2 separate regions of the Homo sapiens genome follow, and region 1 is linked to region 2. Evidence: fine-mapped expression QTL. Tissue or cell type: pancreas. Region 2 holds a variant in brackets; the other region holds the start of a gene. All regions are shown on one strand. Distances are between the middles of the regions.

Region 1 (6,162 bases), 83 kb before region 2:
CTCCTCCCCATGAGGGTGGGGTTGTGACTGCTTCCATCAAGAGAGTAGGGTGGAGTTATGTGACCTCCGAGGCTAGGACATAAAAGGCCACGAAGCTTCCTCCTTGTTTACTGGAATGCTTGCTCTTGGAGCCCTGAGCTGCCATGCAAGACTTCCAGCTACTCCAAGGCCACCATGGAGAAGCCTAGTTTAGGTGCTCCAGTTAGTCTGCAGCCCTAGTGCCCAAGTCATCCCAGTGCAGATGGCAGCTATGTGAGTGAATGAGCCTTGAGATCGGGGTTAGCCAACTTTTTATCTAAAGGGCCAGATTGCATGGCTTTGTGGGCCACATAATCTCTGTCACAATTACCAACATGAATGACTGTGTTTCGATAACGATTATTTGCAAAAAGAAGCCATAGGCCTGCAGGTTATAATTTACTTTACATGATTCTAATCCCCAACCATTTGAGCCTAAGGTCCCAGGCAGATATGGAGGAGCAAGGACAACCTATTTCCCCTGTGCTCTGTCCAAACCTCCGATCCACAGAATTCAGGAATCTAATAAAATGGCTGACATTTTACTCCCACTATGTTTGGGGTGGTATATCAAACACCGGTAGATAGCTGAAGAGTATTGTACAAGGCAGGCCTCAACAAGAAAGTGAGATTTGAGCTGACTTGGAGGAGAGCCAACTGGGAAGCTGTGTGTCTAGGGGAAGAGCATTTCAGGCAGAGAGAACAGCCAGTGCAAACCTTTGGGCGGAGGAGTGCTTGGTATATGTGAGCAATAGCAAGGAAATTGCAGGAGAACAGCTCTGCCGAGGTGTCCTTGGCAATCTTGCACATCTCTCGAGGCCATGTAGGCAAGGTATGACCACGGTCTGACCCAAGTCTTGTTGGACTGCCCTGTGATTTCCCCTAAAGCAGGGATGGGTAAGCCTGGTGAGGAGCCACTGGTAGGCAGTTTCCTATCCCTACCCCATGGGAGACTGCTGCAAGGCCATTTCTCTTCCTTCTCCAACGTTTCAGTTGACTGCAGGACTTTCCATATCCCTCCCTCCACCGCCCAGCCCGCTTCCCTCCAAGCATACAGCGGCAGGCTCCTGTGAAGTCTATAAAACTGCTTGGTGTAATTTAGACTTGGCTACTCAGCGGCAGGGCTCATGTTGTCTTATTTATTTATTTATTTATTTATTTATTTTTGTTAAATTATGTAGACCCATAGGATAACACTGACCCTTCCAGTTTGGTGTTATCTTGTAGGCCTAAGGATGCATGGAGCTGACACCACACTGATTTTGCTTTTGCTGTCGGTGTAAGTAATAACCTGTCTAAACCCATCTGGGCTGCCTGTCTCCTTCCCGTAGCCAAATCTACGGGAAGTGTCCAGCCAGTGTAGGGGTCAAGGGACCGCTTGACGAGACCAACGTAAATTGAAGAGGCGTAAGGAGATGAGGCCAAAGAGGAAAGGGGACCAGGTCACGTAGAACCTCGTAGACCACTGCAGAACCTTGGCTTACGTACGCAGAGACAGCAGGAACCACTGATAGGTTTAGGGAGATTTGAGGAGAGGGACATGATTTGGCTTATGTTATGTTGTTAAAGGGACCACATTAAAATACATTCATTCTAAAAGTGTTACCTTTAAGAAACTACGTATATAAATTAAGTTACTGTTGCCATTATTAGCGTAAGTAGTTACATTTCTCTTACGACTCACTCTCTGCTACTGCCTCTTGGACCCTGCACACCTTGTGGAGGCCCATGAGAGTGACGTGCTGTGGTTCCCCCTCTCCCCACTCCTGCTCTGCACTTTGTCATTCACGTTCATCTCCCTCCTTGAGTGTCACCTCTCTCTGGCTCGTCACGGAGCCACGGCAAAGCGTCCTTTCCCAGGAACCCCTCCCCCTGGGGAGGTGAGCTCCTCGCCGCCAGGGCCGTGTCGCGCACCTCGGGCCGGGTACCCAGGCGGCGCTCGGCGGCGAGCGGAATGGATGTGGAGGAGCGCTCGGCAGGGAGCGCTGCCGCCCTGGCCTTGGCCTCTGGGAGCGGCGCGGCCAGGGTTTTCTGTGTCAGCCAAGCCCGGAATGCGGGGGCGCCTCTGGACCCTCCTCTTGGGTCTGGGGGCTGCCTCGGGCATCCTCTACTCCTCTCCCACCTTCTGTCCTTCCCCATCTCCCACCCACACGTGTGGGGCCCCGGACCCGCGCAGCGGCCAGAGCCTTCCGCTGTGGACCTCCAGTCCACCCCTCCCCTTCACTTCTCTTTCCGGCTCCCTCCGGGTCTCTCAGCCCCCTCCCCTTCCTCTCCGCCCCCTTCCCCGCCGTCTGCCCAGCGGCGGCCTTCGGCCCGCCCCTTCTCTCCAACCCCCTCCCTTTCCCCTTTACGCCCCTCCTCCCCCTCGTCCTCCCGCCCCCTCCCACCCCAACCTGCTGGGCCCGCCGGGACTCGCCCCCCTGCCCGCTCCTCTCCTCCAGCCCCGGCCGGCCTCGGCTCGGCCCCCGGCCCGCCCCTTCCAGCCCTCGGCACCTCCCGCCGGCCGCTTGGCTCCGCCACTCGGCACTCACTGCCCGGGCCGCCCGGACAGGGAGCTTCGCTGGCGCGCTTGGCCGGCGACAGGACAGGTTCGGGACGTCCATCTGTCCATCCGTCCGGAGAGAAATTACAGATCCGCAGCCCCGGGATGGGGCCGGCCCCGCTGCCGCTGCTGCTGGGCCTCTTCCTCCCCGCGCTCTGGCGTAGAGGTGAGTGCGCCCGGCTGGGGGCCAGGCGAGGGGGTGGGGGCTCCCAGGAGGAAGCAGGGGCCTCTGGGGAGGGAGCGCGTCCACAGGGGCGCGCCTGGCTGCTGGACAAGTTTGCAAACACCCTCCACCCACTGCGGTGCCAGAGGAGGGGGCGTAGGCGAACCTACCGTCCACTGACCGCGGCGCCTCAAGCGTCCCGAGGGCACCCAGCCTGGCTTGCGGGTGCGCATCGTGGTGAAGCCGGGTCGGGGTCGGCGTTGCAGGCTCCCCTCTTCACCGCAGAGGAGGAAATCGAGCTCGGCCGGGCGCGCTGCAAGTCCTGAAGTTCCGACGAGTGGAACGTAGGTAGCAGGTCTGGTCTGGGATGCGACGAGAACTTTCCACTAGAGTTGCATGGTGGGGCCCCGCTCTGGCCGGAGTCCCGGGGGCCACAGATCCGGTCTCCCGAGGGACCGGCGCGGGGCGAACGAACGGGCTGCGGGAGTCGGAGCCGCAGTCCGGGAGCCGCGATAGACTGAGGCCGAGCGACGGGCCAGGGGGGGACGGCAGTCCTGGCTGCTCCCAATGGGCCCTTACGGGCATTATTAGTATCCCTTTTTAGGGGCACCCAGAGAGTGTGGGAAAAGGGGAGCGTTCTTTTCACTCCTGTTATGGCAGAACAGAACTTACAGTGCTCGGCAGCGTTTACGTTTATCTGGATTCAGCGAAGTGTTGTTACAGGCTTTTTTTTTTTTAATTTGAGACCGAGTCTCGCCCTGTCGCCCAGGCTGGAGTGCCGCGGCGCGATCTCGGCTCACTGCAGGCTCCGCCTCCCGGGTTCAAGCGATTCTCCTGCCTCAGCCTCCCGAGTAGCTGAGACTATAGACGCGCGCTACCACGTCCGGCTAATTTTTGTATTTTTAGTAGAGACGGGGTTTCACCATGTTGGCCAGGATGGTCTCGATCTCTTGACCTCGTGATCTGCTCTCCTTGGCCTCCCAAAGTTCTGGGATTACAGTCGTGAGCCACCGCGCCCGGCTTGTTCCAGGCATTTTAATACAAGATGCTGGACTGATACGTGGAGGCAAGGAAGGCCGGTTTCATTCTGCTTGAACAGCTTATTTGGGGAGTGAGTGATGAACAGATTTCAAGTTTGATCGCTGATGCACTTCTTGAGGAGGCTGGAATAAACTTACCAGGCTTTACCCAAAAGAAAAAGAAAGGGGAAAAATGCTAAATAAACACATTCCAAGTATTTTCTCTCAGCTAAAAGGTTTCTATTTCCATTCAGCATGTAGATTTTCTCTCTTTTGATCGAGAATGCACTTGACTAGCCTTCACCTATTACAGTCAAAGATGTTTTTTAGGAATACCTGGAAAGCTCAGTTTATAGTCAAGTAAGTTACTTAAAAGTTTTTCCTTTGAGATTTTCCTTTGAAAGCTCATTTACTCAAATGAAAAATTCTTAAACAGTGCACCCACTTTTTGCACGTTAAATTACATAAGCAATTTATAATTTGGGGCAACATAGCAATTTGAAACAAACTTTAAGAGCCAGGCAAAGAACTAAAGCAGTTCTGTTCTCCACTGCCCCTCCCTCCACCAAACCTTCAAAAATTCCTCAGCATTTCTGCCAGCCCCATTTTTCATAATCTGCTGCAAATCTGTTATTTGTTGCTACTAGTGAGGACTGGCCGTGAATAGTCTTGGAGGTAGTGAATGTGGTGAGAACTATGGAGAAAGTAATGGGAACAATAGTTTTGTGTTAAATACTTAAAAATTGGAGTGCTTTTGTTTTTCTAAAATTTTAAAAGGCTGTAATAACAAATTTTTGTAGCTGACAATCAACTTTAATCAGACAATCATAAAAAGGCCTTTTAAAATCCACCCAGCTGGAAGAATGAAAAGTTTCACCAATCGTTCTTGCACTTTTTGCTTTTGGTTTTGAACTTTACCTATGAGATGTGTGACAGTTTTACATCTCACCTTGTGAAAAGCTTAAAGAATGGGATTCTCACTGGCAGAATTACAGCACAAAGGAGTGCTGTATGAAGAAATTAAACATGGAAATTAGACTCTTCATCTAATTTTAAGATTTTCCTATTACACATTGTGGGTCTGAGTGCTTTGCTGACCACACAGGGGAGACAGAGAGAGAGACAATGAGAATATGTGTGTAGATTCTACACTGTTAGCAGTATAGAAGAATGGGTAAATAAAATTTAAGCATCACTTTAACCCAGGAAATCCCCTCTGCCCCCCAACACACATACACACTACACGTCTCACAAAGACATGCACACACAGAACTGGAACTGCCAAACCAGGAGCATTTCGAGGCTTTCCAGTCTTTCCTTTCTGCTCAGTCTCTGATGGGGGTGCCATTGAGCAGCAAAATGAGGCAAGCGGTGGCTCTCTGAAGGGCCAGGGAGAGGATGGAGCAAGATAAATATAAATGTGGATAAAAATGAATGCATTATGAGGACTTAGCTCATGACGAGGCTGTGTGTGCAGCTAAACTCAACCCTTAGAGTAAATTAGGCTTTTAAGATTCTTTAATGTTAATATTTCTTTTCCAAACTGATATTGTAACATGTATTCCAGTATATTGTAAACATCTTCCCAGAGGGAACTTTTAAGTTGTTCTGTTGCTTGTGGGCTTTATTCCAAAGGCTTCAAATGCTTTTTGAAAGTACATCGTGCATATTTTAAAAATGAATACTTTTAGAAAATTATTCTGACCCATTAAAGTGCTGAGTGGAATTCTTTTCTTTTCTTTCTTTCTTTTTTTTTTTTTTTTGGCAGGTTCTCATTCTGCCACCCAGGCTAGAGTGCAGTGGCACCATCACGGCTCACTGCAACCTCAACCTTCCGGGCTCAAGTGATCCTCCCACCTCAGCCTCCCAAGTAGCTATGACCACAGGCACATACCACCATGCCTGGCTAATTTTTTATTTTTTGTAGAGACAGGATCTCACTATGTTGCCCAGGCTGGTCTTGAACTCCTGGGCTCAAGCGATCTTCCCACCTTAGCCTCTCAGAGTGTGGGGATTATAGGCATGAGCCACCATGCACAGCTGAATACAATTTTTAAAAAATTAACAATAATTATGTTTTTTTGTTTTTGAGATAGAGTTTCACTCTTGCTGTCCAGGCTAGAGTGCAATGGCACAATCTCGGCTCACCGCAACTTCCCGCCTCCCGGGTTCAAGCAGTTCTCCTGCCTCAGCCTCCTGAGTAGCTGGGATTACAGGCATGCACCACCACGCCTGGCTAATTTTGTATTTTTGGTAGAGACAGGGTTTCTCCGTGTTGGTTAGGTTGGTCTCGAACTCCCAACCTCAGGTGATCTGCCTGCCTTGGCCTCCCAAAGTGCTGGGATTACAGGCATGAGCCACCACACCCAGCCAATAATTATATTTTTAAATCTTAATTTTTGAAATAATTTCCAGATAAT
Region 2 (6,162 bases):
CCACCGTGCCCAGCCTTTTCATAACTGTTTCAATGTCTTTGTTTGCTATCCTAACATCTATGTTATCTGTGGGTGGTTTCAACTGATTCATTTATGTTTCCACTCTAGGTAGTATTTTTCAGGTTCTTTGCACGCCTGATAATGTTTGATTGGATTACAGACATTGAGAATTTTACAGTGTTGGATGCTAGATATTCTTCTATTTCTGTAAATAGTGAGCTTTGTTTTGAGACACAGTTAAGCTAGTGGGAAACCGTTTAATCCTGTAGGGTCTTGCTTTTAAGATTTATTAGGCAGAACCTGATAAGGGCTCAGTCTCAGGTCGGTTATTACCCACTGCTGACACAAGACCATTCTGTGTGCCCTACTCAGTGCTTCTTGAATCATTAGATTTTCCAGTCTGATTGATGGGAACAGGCACTATTCTTCCCCCGTGTGAAGCCTGGATACCATTACCTTTAACTGTTTCGTGTGGTTCTTTTTCTATTTTCCTTTAGAGGCATCCTAAGGATTCTGGTGCCTTCTCCTGGGTATTTGCCTTTCTTAGTTTATGCCCTCGTTTTTATGGAGCCCATTCTCAATTAGCTTCCACAAAATGTATACATAAAAAGTAAAGATTGTGGGAACTTGCATATCCTTATGTAATACTGGCTTAGTAATTTTTCCAAATATAGAAATTTAGGTTGAAATTATTTTCCCTCAGAAGTTTAAAGGCGTTTTTGTATCATTTTTTAGCTTCATGGGTTGCTGTGGAAAATTCTGATACTTAAGTTTTCTATGTGAACTGTTTTTCAGTTTTAGTTTTTAAAATATCTTTTCTCTTTAATCCTGGTTCTGTGATAAGCTGTGATGTGCAATTTGTTTTGGTCATCAAGGGCATTCAGTGGCCCCTTTGATCTGGAAATGCAAGTCTTTTGGTCCTTAAACTTTTTTTTTTCCTTTGGAAATGTTCCACTCTCTGTTTTTTCCAGGAATTGTGTTAGACGATTGTTAATTAGACCTCTTCGATTGCTTCCTCAATTTTCTTTTTTCAAATTGGCCTATTTTCTTTGCCTTTTTATTCTACCTTCTTGGAGATTTACTTGATTTATCTTCCAATTCTTCTATTAAATGTTTTATTTTACTTATCATGTTGCTAATTTCAAGTTTTTTTCATTGAAAATTTTTTTCTGGTTCTCAATCATAAGAGTCTTTTCTGGATATCTCAATTATTTTTTGTTTGTTTGTCTTTAGTCTCCCTAGTTCCCTACACTAGCTTTGTCTCCTCTAAGCCCTCTGTTCTGTGTGGTTTTTTTTGGTCCCTGATATTCAGTGGGGAGGCTTCGCCAGACCTCTGCTAATTTCTGCTGTCTGCTCCTATGGAAGAGTGAAGAATCATTGATTTGATTGGAACTCTGTGGGTATGGGCAGAGCTTGTAGGCTTCACTATAGGTGATTGGACAGTGACCTAAGTGTTTTGATCTAGATACGATACCCCCCAACTGTCAAAATTGGTTTCTTTCCTCTGTAGCCGCTCACTTCCTCTAGAAAAGAAGTGTCCTGCTCCAGGAATTAAACGTGGCTGCTGATATTCTAGTAGCCAAGTGGGGGAGGAGGGGAAGGTAGAGTCCTTGTTATTTAGTATATAAACTTTCACTTATTTTCCCAGTTTTCAGCCTGGCTCCTTATCATGCCTCCATTCTACAGGTGCCCTAAGTTTAGTGGCTTTCTGCTTCAGAGAATAAATCACCCTGTGTCCTATGGATATTTGAGGGCATACTTGCCAGGTGTGTAGGCATGGAGAAGACAGACTTTGAGACGCAACTATTTCTTTTTTTTTTTTTTTTTTTTTTTTGAGACGGAGTCTCGCTCTTTCGCCCAGGCCGGACTGCAGTGGCACAATCTCGGCTCACTGCAAGCTCTGCCTCCCGGGTTCATGCCATTCTCCTGCCTCAGCCTCCTGAGTAGCTGGGACTACAGGCGCCCGCCACCACGCCCGGCTAATTTTTTGTATTTTTAGTAGAGACGGGGTTTCACCGTGTTGGCCAGGATGGTCTCGATCTCCTGACCTCGTGACCCACCCGCCTCGGCCTCCCAAAATGCTGGGATTACAGGCGTGACCCACTGCGCCCGGCAGAGACACAACTATTTGTTAATCAGACTTCCAATCATTCTTTCCAGTTTTAGTCCCCATTTTACTACCTGGGCCCACAGCTTCTGAGCTGCTCTGTGATTCTTTGGGAGAATATTGGCTTGCTGAGTTAATTATACCTTCTTCATCTCTTTTTCAGCTTTCAAATATGTGTTGAAATCTCTCTTCTACTGTTGACTCCTCTTTGCCTTGTGAGTTTATATCTTTTTAAATTCTTTATTGCCATCATAGAGGGGTTTTGGGAGGAGGCAGACATACAGACATGTTGTGTTGGCCATATTTATCCACAAATTCTACAACAGGTTTGAAAGTGTGCGACTGATTTCATAGGCAGCTTTAGTTGTGTGATGTTTTCTAAGCTGAAATTCATTTTAACTTCATGATTACTGTTTCTGGAATCAGCAGAGAAAAAGAGGGTTATAGTATCCTTTCACACATATCTGAAATATAGAATTTAACCTCCCCTCATTCAACTACAGGCAACAGTTTGGTGTATATTATTCTAATTGTTATTATTCTTTCTAGATATAGAAGGTTTATTGTTTTAATTTCTAAAATGGATCTATATACTTTTTACAATCTGATTTTTCCCCCATTGGATTTTTTTATATCAATACACATGACCTAATTCTTTCCAGTGACGAGGTAGTAAGTATTCCATTGGAAAATGTATCAAAATTTGTATTATTATTATTATTTGAGACAGAGTCTCACTCTGTTGCCCAGGCTGAAGTGCAGTGGCATGATCTTGACTCACTGCAACCTCCATCTCCCAGATTATATCATAATTATTGACCAAGCATTGCATTTATTTCTATTTGTCACTATTATGCTGCAATGAATATAACATCACCTACAGATTAAATTCCTGGAAATAAAATATTTGGTCAGAGAGCATATTATTTTCAATTTTAATAGATATAGTTAAGTTATTCTCTCCCAAAAAAGACTGTAGTAATGATCTTGACTTGTTTCCCAAATTATTTTATACACGTACACTCGT[GTACACACACA/G]CACACACACACACACACACTTTTTAAATGTGTTGACAGATTAGCTCTGTTCAGACTGTCAGTAACTTGCCTCTGGACTTTAAAATGGTGGCTGCATTCTGAGCTCAGCAGTGTTTCCTACCTTGTGCATCTCAAATGCCACCAAGCTGATCTCTAGCTGGCCATGTTAACTTTCTGCCCCACAGGTTTATGCTGGAGAACATTGTTCAAGTTGTGTCTGCTTCACTTCCCCAGGAGTCCAGAGCACCACCCACCCTACCTTCCCTGCCTTCTTCTTCTTTGCTATTTTACTTTAGGTGCTCATGAAATTTCCTTTTTTTTTTTTTCTTTTGAGATAGGGTCTTGCCCTGTCACCCAGGCTAGAGTGCAGTGGTGCAATTACGGCTCACTGTGGCCTTGACTTTCCAGGGTCAAGTGATCTTTCCTCAGCCACTCAAGTAGCTGGGACTACACACCTGTGCCATCACACCCAGCTAATTTTTTATTTTTAGTGGTGATTGGAGTCTCACTATGTTGTCCAGGCTGGTCTCAAACTCCTGACCTCAAGCAATCCTCTCCCTCTGGCCTCCCAAAGTGCTGGGATTATAGGCATGAGCCACCATACCTGGCCAACATTTTCTTCTTTTCTTTCTCTTTCTCTTTCTTTCCTTCTTTTCTTCCTTGCTTGCTTTTTCTGCCCAGGCTGAAGTGCAGTGGTATGATCATGTCTCACTGTAGCCTCAATCTCCTGGGCTCAAGGAATCCTCCTGCCTGTCTCCTGAGGGACTGGAACTACAGATGTGCACCAAGTAGTCAGCTAATTTTTTAGTTTTTTGTTTTGTTTTGTAGAAAGGGTCTCACTATGTTCTGGCTGATATTTTCAACTTAAGAAATGAATTTCTAGGCTTCAGTAACCTAAAAGGGCTCACTTATTTAAAACTCACTGATATCTCAGTGAAAATCTTAGTTGAAAAGGTGAAAATGTGCTATAAGTCTTGGTCTCATTTGAGTGCTTTTCATAGAGCATTTGAAAACCAAACACTTGAAAACCCAGATGAGAATACATCTGTGTGTGCTTTGTGGTTCTTCATTCTTCTCTCCTTTTTTCTTTTGTAGCCCCATCAGTAGCACCTTTAAATGTCACTGTGTTTCTGAATGAATCTAGTGATAATGTGGACATCAGATGGATGAAGCCTCCGACTAAGCAGCAGGATGGAGAACTGGTGGGCTACCGGATATCCCACGTGTGGCAGAGTGCAGGGATTTCCGTAAGTCTAAACCCTAGAAGAGCACGATTAGTCATCTCCTTTCAACTTGCTGGTTTACTTCAGTTTTAGAAGCTTTCATTTGGTTTTGAAAAGACCTGGTGTGATTGAGTTAGGCAAGGCACCTTTCAGGGGAACATAAAGAATATAGTAAATATTAGAGGTGACTGAACAGTTACAAAATTCTAAGGTATCTTTTGGGACTTTCCTCACTTACTCATTCATTCATTCATTCTTTTACTTATTCATGAGATAGACATAGAATTCATCCTCTGTTATCACCTGACTTTTGCCCTCATGGAATTTAGGCTCTTATAGGATGACAGTGTGGAATACCCAAGTTGTAGCATTAGGTCAGGGAGCTACAGGGCTTAGCAGTCCAGCAATTCATGGCCTTTTGGAAATTTCATGGGACTTTGCAAAAGAAGAAGATAAGGGAATAACCTCATCCTCATAGAGAATGGCAAGAAGTAAGCAGACACCAAAGGAGGAGACCGAGCAAGCTCTCTGGCCAGCCTGGCACAGCTGCGGGCAAGCCGAAATTAGACATCAGAATTACTGGATCAGGACATGCAGTCTGACACTACATAACACAACCAGGTGCATCAGCCAGGTGGCACAGGTTCCCTGCTCCACCAAGTCCCATTGGGCAATGTGATGTACCCACTTGGTGGATTGTGCACCTGAGGGTACTAGGGTCAAGGGCTCAGCACCCTGTGTAGTGAACAGCAAACAAGCTGATCCTCTGTGCAGTTGCACGGTCGTCATGCTGTGGCCACCTTGACCTACTTCACTGCCCACGTGACTAGCCCCAGCATGGCTCGGGGTTGGGGATGGTTAGGCCTTGCAGTTTGTCACACTCAGCAAGGATGAACAAAGATGCTTGGAGCCTGTGGCAGACTGCCTCTCCCAGAAAAGGTGGTACTTGAATTGGGCTTGTGTGTTAGTCAAGATTCTTTAGAGAAACAGCTAATTGAACATGTATGTATAGAAGGAGATTTATGATAAGAAATTGACTCATGCAATTACAGAGGCTGAGAAGTCTCACGATCTGCCATCTGGAAGCTGGAGACCCAGGAGCCAGTGGTGTAATTTAGTCAGAGTCTGAAGGCCTGAGAAACAGGGGCAGTGGTGTAGATCTCAGTCCAAGGATAGGAGAGTACTGATGTCTCAGCTCAAGCATTCAGGCAGAAGAAAAGGGGAGAATTCCTCCTTTCTTTACCTTTTGTTCTTGTCAGGCCCTCCATGGATTGAATGAGGCCCAGCCACACTGAAGAGGGCAGTCTGCATTATGAGTCCCCTGTTTCAAATAATAATCTCACTGGAAACACCTTCACAGACACACCCAGAAATCATGTTGAGCCACATAGCTGGGCACCTCTGTCACCCAGTCAAGTTGACACATAATATTAACCATCGCAGCTTAGAGTAATTTTGACAGATGAAATTTGAGGAGTCTCAGATGGGAAAAGATAACATGAGAGAAGGCACAACGTGGCAGCTTTAAATTCTGACTCACTTGAAGGTCTGGAACATAACGCTTTTGTGAGAGCGAGGTGTGAGATGAAGCTGGATTGAGGAGTTCTGACCCTAAAATGCAGGGCCCTGAAAGTGAAGCCAAGGCAGGTAGAAATTTGTTGATAGCAGGGGAGCCAATGATAAGCATGAGCTCAGGAGCACAACTTGAGACTTACAGATCATGATGATGACCTAGATGATTCTTCTTTCATGAATAATTACATTGAGTTTGCTGATATAAGTAACCTTCTAACCT

The links. PIP is the estimated chance that this variant, and not a neighbour inherited with it, causes the effect.
Region 1: it holds the start of MERTK, and the variant in region 2 is fine-mapped to the expression of MERTK in pancreas (GTEx, PIP 0.95).

Annotation. Positions count from the first base shown.
Region 1 is chr2:111,896,071-111,902,232 of GRCh38, forward strand. It overlaps MERTK (MER proto-oncogene, tyrosine kinase), which reads left to right and starts at 2,537. Exons shown (of 19, transcript NM_006343.3): 1 at 2,537-2,726. The coding sequence starts at 2,666. RefSeq lists an enhancer at 1,676-2,005.
Region 2 is chr2:111,978,603-111,984,764 of GRCh38, forward strand. It overlaps MERTK (MER proto-oncogene, tyrosine kinase), which reads left to right. Exons shown (of 19, transcript NM_006343.3): 8 at 4,240-4,391. Among named protein-coding and RNA genes, the nearest start is that of TMEM87B, 74 kb to the right of the region's middle. The variant GTACACACACA/G (reference allele first, on the strand shown) is at 3,135.